Homo sapiens: one gene and its partner. The protein of the gene in region 1 interacts with the protein of each later gene in a biochemical or structural test. Each region holds a gene or a part of one and is shown on either strand. Other genes may lie near its edges.

What was found.
Region 2: the proteins of TRIM25 (region 1) and G3BP1 form a complex in vitro, tested with the Homo sapiens proteins (one study listed by BioGRID).

What each region holds. Positions count from the first base shown.
Region 1 is NC_000017.11:56,887,255-56,890,049, forward strand, and holds the end of TRIM25 (E3 ubiquitin/ISG15 ligase TRIM25), read right to left. Parts: 3' UTR 655-2,795; downstream 1-654.
Region 2 is NC_000005.10:151,795,828-151,799,581, reverse strand, and holds part of G3BP1 (ras GTPase-activating protein-binding protein 1), read right to left. Parts: intron 2,356-3,754; coding exon 2,154-2,355; intron 371-2,153; coding exon 269-370; intron 1-268. UniProt on the Homo sapiens protein: Protein involved in various processes, such as stress granule formation and innate immunity. Plays an essential role in stress granule formation.

The sequences.
Region 1 (2,795 bases):
GCAAGTCCAAACTTAGCCCATGGGTCACCCCAGCAGACCACAAATGACTTAAAAACCACACATGCGTGCACACACACACACACACGCACTCCCAGCTTGCCTTTAGTAAGGAGTCACAAATTACCATCCTGAACTTTTTATTGGAAAAAAGTGTCCCCGGACAGTTGAAGAGTCATCTCTGAATAGAAAGACAAGTCTATCACTGACATACTGAGTATTTTTATGGTTACAGTGACAGTGAGGAAGAAAAAACTACAAGAGGGGTTGGAGATGAGCGAGAACAAAACTCAGGACAGTAAACAAAGGGGACTTCACACAGGTGAGAAGAAACTCAGGAGGCTCCCATGAAGAGTAGTGTGTTTTGTTCCAACAGGCTGGTCGAGAAGGGCTTACTCAAGGTGTGCAGATCCCACCGCCTCTGTTCTGACACCACCTGGTGTACCGCACCACAATTCTAACAACGACCAGCAGAGTTAGATCAGATGCCACCAGCGAAGGGACATAGTCCCCAACAGGGCTGCCCTCACCTCAGACACCAGCCCCATGTGGGGATCCCAGGCCATCAGCGCTTGTGACCAACTGCCTACAATCCCAGGAGGGTACCATGATCTTCCTCAGGTTCAATGATTCACTAAAAATCACAGAACTCAGGACTATACTTATGATTAGTTTTATTATAAAGGATACAAATCAGCTCCACAAGCCAAGGAAGACACAGGGAAAGGTCTGGAAGGGTCTTGAGCACAGTGCTCCCATGCCCCCTCTTCGTGGAATTAGGGCACACTGCCCTGCCGGCATAGCCACAGCTTCACCACCCAGGAAGCTATGCTGAGCTTTAGTGTCCAGAGTTTTTATTAGGGTTTCATGATGTACTGATTAAAGCACTGGCCAGATGATTAAACTCAGCCTCCAGTCCCCCGCCCCATAGGTCAGGCTGACTCAAAGCCTCAAACCTCTAATCACATGGTCAGTCTGTCTGGTGACCAGCCCCAGCTCTGAGTCATCCCACCTTTTAGCATAAGCTCAGGTGTGATCCCATGGCCTCACAAATAACAAAGACACTCCTATTACCCTGGAAATGTCAAGGACTGAAAGTCTCCCTCCCAGGAAGCAGGGACAAAGGCCAGTTCAATTCTTTAGACAACCTCCAATCCACACCTCCTGGAACTCCTACCCCAATTGAAACAAGGATAAAATCCACTGAACATGGAGGGCCCATTGCTGGCCTGAACTATTTTTGTTTCTTTTTTTTTTTTAAAGCTTTTTATTATAGACATTTTCAAACATATACAACAGTAAAATGAATAATATAATGAACCCTCACACCTCCATCCCTAGTAACTGATTATCCGTGTGTGGCTTACTCTTTGATCGATACTCTCCTGCTTTCCCCTAGCCCCCACAGTTAGACTGTCCCGCAGCAAAGCCCAGACAGACATCCTATCGGTCTGAGAATTCCTTATCAAAAGCTTCCCGAAGAGGAACTCTATATAGGGCAGGACTAAGTGTGCTGGCTATAGGTCTGCAGAAATCTCAACCCTTGGGAGCCCTTGGGTGGGGCCTGGGCAGGTCCCTGGGCAGTAGCCGTCTGTAGTGGGCGGCTCATCTGCTGACAACAGTATGACGAACAAATAGCATTTTGTACCCGCACTACAATGCAGGAGAACGCCAAACACCGCTTTATTGCATTCAAACCTTCTAAGGCACGTCAGCCAGCCCTGGCCTTGTCTACAGCCATGATTATCTCCTTAAAGAGTTAACTCTAAAAAAATATTAAGCTCAAGAAATAACAGCTCAAATACTCCTAACTAATTAAAATCAATAGTGAGAGGCAGAATACGGTAAAAGATAACATATTAGTATTATTGATCACAGATCAATTTCAGAGTACTTAAAACAGGAATAATCAGCTACCACATCTTGAAAAATACAAAGACTTGATCCTAACCTTTTATTTATCATGCCACACGGACTGAGACAGTCCCCAGTACCTGGGTCTAGGAGAGTTATTTTATGTTTGTGTTTCTGGGAATTTCCGATACTTCCCAGTGTATCAGAGTGTTCCCCTCACACATGCTAGCAGGCATCTCCCCACTAATGGAATAGCAAGAGTGGTGAACAGAGCGATCCTCTACTTTCTCATCATATTCTGCAAAATGAGAAGTCAGATGGATACAAAGGTTCCTCCAACTCTAGGACTCCAGGGTTGTGTGGCGGCCCTGCAAGGCTAGGTTATGTAAGGTCTCACCATTGCAAACAGAATGGTTCAAGACAGCAAGGATGCACTCCTCAATTTACAACTCCAAAGCACCTTGCACAGAGCTTGGCTTTGGTTACCTACTTGACTCTCTTTTAAACAGAGGGTCTTATGCTTCCCTATCCTGAGCTGCACATTTGCCAGGGAAGTGGCCTCACTGTTGCCCTCATTTCTGCAGAAGAGAGCCAGAGCAGGAGCCATGGATTTATCTCTGGCATTCTACTCCTCCAAGCCCAGCTGTTTCCCAAGTATTAATTGGTTTCAGACAAGGCTTTCGTTTCAGAAAATCAATGAAGATGCTTTTGATCATCTTCAAAAGCAGAGAAGAATCACCAAAGAACTTTTCTTCCAAGTAGTAAAGGAATAAAACTTCTAAGGACCACATATCACCTATTGCAGGGATGTCTTTCCTACAAAGATTATTGCTCTCCCGAGGAACTGAAAATCCTTGTTAGGAGATGACACCGATCAGGTATGTACCTGCATGTCAGGTGTGTAGCTGTCAGGAATATCAAGTGTTCTGAGCCTGCCTAGAGTG
Region 2 (3,754 bases), on another chromosome or scaffold:
TCCTAAGTAGCTAGGACTACAGATGCATGCCACAAGGCCCAGCTAATTTCTTATTTTTTGTAGAGACAGGGTCTCACTATGTTGCCCAGACTGGTTTCAAACTCCTAGGCTCCAGTGATCAGCTGGCTTCAGCCTCCTAAAGTGCTGGGATTACAGGCATGAGCCACACTGCACCTGACCAGTTTTCACATTCTCTAAACCTCTGTTGAATCAAATTACCACAATAGAAGTAAATTTGCCTAATGTACAAGTTTTATTAGGACCTTACCTGTGAAGCTGGTACTTTAACAACATGAGGTGGTATCCCAGTAACTGGAACAGCTCCACTGGGTGGAAGATTCTTACTGGTCACAGATGCCCAAGAAAATGTCTAAGGGAGCAATACCAACATTACATAATTATACCAGGTATCAAAACAATATAAAAGCTACTAACTCTTGATTTCCTGTACAGAACAAACGGTAACACATTCTCATAGGCAGGATGGAGTTTATATATATATATTAAGATTCTTCTCTTTCAGCTATTCAAAATTTAGTACTGAAATTCCTTGGGACTGATGATCAAGTACCAAGCAAATCCGAGAGGCTTAGGTTCAAGAAACTACTCACTTTTTTTTTTGAGACAGAATCTTGCTCTGTTGCCCAGGCTGGAATGCAGTGGCATGCACACAGCTCATTGCAGCCTACATCTCCTGTGCTCAAGTGATCCTCCCACCTGTTTCCCAAGCAGCTGAAACTACAGGCATGTGCCACCATGTCCAGCTATTTTTTCTTTTTAGTAGAGATGAAGTCTCACTATATTGACCAGGCTGGTCTTGAACTCCTAAACTCAAGCAATCCTCCTGGCCTCAGCCTCCCAAAGTGCTGGGATTAAATGCGTAAGCCACAACGCCTGGCCCAACAAAAGCTACTTTCATTCAAATCTGTGAATCAAACAAAATTCCCTCTCCTCCAAAATCAGCTCAGCTCTTCCTACTGTGATTCCATCCAATCCATTGTACAAACATCGACTCAATTACATCAATTGTAGAATCATCATAAACACCTTTCTCGCACATTTAAAAATCGCCAGAACCTGTTATTCTACCTAATTATTTCTTTTCCATTTCCACTGCCACAACTCTAATTCAAGCCATCATTCTCTCTCACTAGGGTTACTATAATAACCAACTAAGTGGTCAGCTGGTCCAGCCAACCTACTTTTCCACTTGCTTCTTATGGTTTTGTTCTTGTGACAAGGTCTTACTCTATTACCCAGGCTGGAATGCAGTGGCATAATCATAGCTCACTGCAGCCTTGACTTCCCAGGCTAAGCCATCCTCCTACCTCAGCCTCCCAAGCAGGTGGGACCACACATAGGCACCACCATGCCCAGCTAATTTTTTCCACTTGCAAGCTAAAGTCATTTCAACATTGCTCTTTCCTACTCACCTATTAGCTGCCAGAGAACAAGAACCCCTATCTGTTTTGCCAATATAAAACCTACACTTTGAACAATGCCTAACACACAGCAGGAATTTGAATTATTGAACAAACAAATGACATAACCCTGAGCCTATAAACACAGCACTAAAAATTATATTCCTTTCCAGAGCACCAAATGCAAAGGTTTCAACGATAGTTCAGTTAACAATCACCCTGACGAGACTCAGAAGGACAAACTGAAAACTTCTGAAATCAGGTATGCCAACTAGAAAAGAAGTTTTACTTCAGCAGTTCATTTCTACTTCCACTATAAAGTTATCTTCAATAAAATTTCATAGAAAAAGTATATTCTGCCATGTTATTTTTCTTGAAAAGATGTTATGCACTTGTAGTAACAAGTATGTAATAATTTATAGTGTAAAAGATTAAATATTAAATAGAAAAGGAATCACTGATAGGGTGCTACAGTGGCACCTAAAATTTCTGGTCTAACAGGCATTCAAGTTACCTCGGGGAAGGGAGTGGTTTCTTTTGATGAAATAAACTAATACACATCTTACCTCTCTCTTATCAAACATATGGCTCAATATCTAAGAAATTTCCCTGAAATGAACCACCAATATGAAAATGTATCTACAAGTCAACCAAACAGCAATACAAAAGAACAGAAACTTTTTTTAAAAAAAATAACTAGGAATAGAATAAAAATGAAGACACGTTTCATACCCTCAAGTCTTCCTGTACTGTCTGAGCTATGTCTGCAGGTGCTGGAGAAGAACTCTTCTGAGCATCCTCAGGGGCAGTTTCTTCTAATACTGGCTCAGGCTTTTCCTCTTGGATTTCAGATACAGGTTCTTGTTCTGGTTCTGGTTCAGGATCAGGCTCTGGTTCAGCAACAGGCTCCTCTAAATGTTCTTCCATGTCATTACTTTGACAGGAAAATTTGAGAAATATCATTCTGCCACCATTTATTTCACAAAAAATTCCTCCATCATTTATTAATCAGAAACCAGAACACAGAGTTAGCTCCTTCTATCCAAAACAAAAATCTAAGAATTGTATATCTATCTGAGTTTTTAAAAAGTAATTTTTAAAATGCCACTCAATAACTTAACTGGAATCCATTTGTTTGGCAAATTCTGATAAGCAAATGAATCAGGACATCAAAATGAACCAAACCACTTTATGGCTGGAATCCCACAACTATTACAATTCATTTAGCATACAACATCAGAAAAACTCTCAAAATAGGCTGGGGCGGGGGGGGCGGGAAAGAAAGTTGCCATTCAATGGGTATAGTCTGTTTATAAGGTATATAAAGTTATCTTCAATAAAAGTTGTAAGGTGAAAAGTCCTAGATATCTGTCATAGAACCACATCTATACAGTTAACACTACTGTACTTTACACTTAAAAATGGTTAAGATGAAAAAAAGGTTAAGATGGCAAATTTTATGATATGTGGCTTTTAACACAAACACACAAAAACTCTTTCAAGCACATAAGGAATTTGGGGGAGAAAATAGTTATGATTCAGAATACAATTCTTAAAATTCCACATAAATCAACCAGAAATGCTGTTAAAACTGCAGAGGGGGCTGGGCACACACCTGTAATCCCAGCACTTTGCGAGGCCAAGGTGGGCAGATCACCTGAGATTAGGAGTTCCAGACCAGCCTGGCCAATATGGCGAAACCCCATCTCTACAAAAACACAAAACTTAGCCGGGCATGGTGGCGTGCGCCTGTAGTCCCAGCTACTCAGGAGGCTGAGGCAGGGGGATTGCTTGAATCCAGGAAGCGGAGGTTGCAGTCAGCCAAGATCGCGCCACTGCACTCCAGCCTGGGTAACAGAGCAAGACTCTGTCTCAATAGAACAAAAACAAACAAAACTGCAGATGTTTTGCCTCCTGAAAGTCTAATTCGGTAGGTTTGCAGTGGGACCATGAATCTTCATTTTCAACCAGCAACCCAAGTGAGTAACCTGATTAGTTCATCACACCTTAAGAAACACTTGAAAACACCCTTCAGGCACTGAATATTAACATTCAGTATCACATGGTAACAAGTAAATATGGATTTCTATTGCTATCAAACACATTTCTGTTCTAATCACAAGGGGGAAAAAACCCAAAGGTATAATGATGCACTTACTAACGTAATGAAATTCTTTATTGCTACTTAACTCACATATTGGTATTTATATCAATTTATGCCCGATCTCTAATTAAATAGGTCTCTGTCCACTTCATATTCCCTCAAAGCATTTAATACCTCAATACATTCAACTCTTGATAAACAATATGCAAGTTTTCACTTAACACCAAGA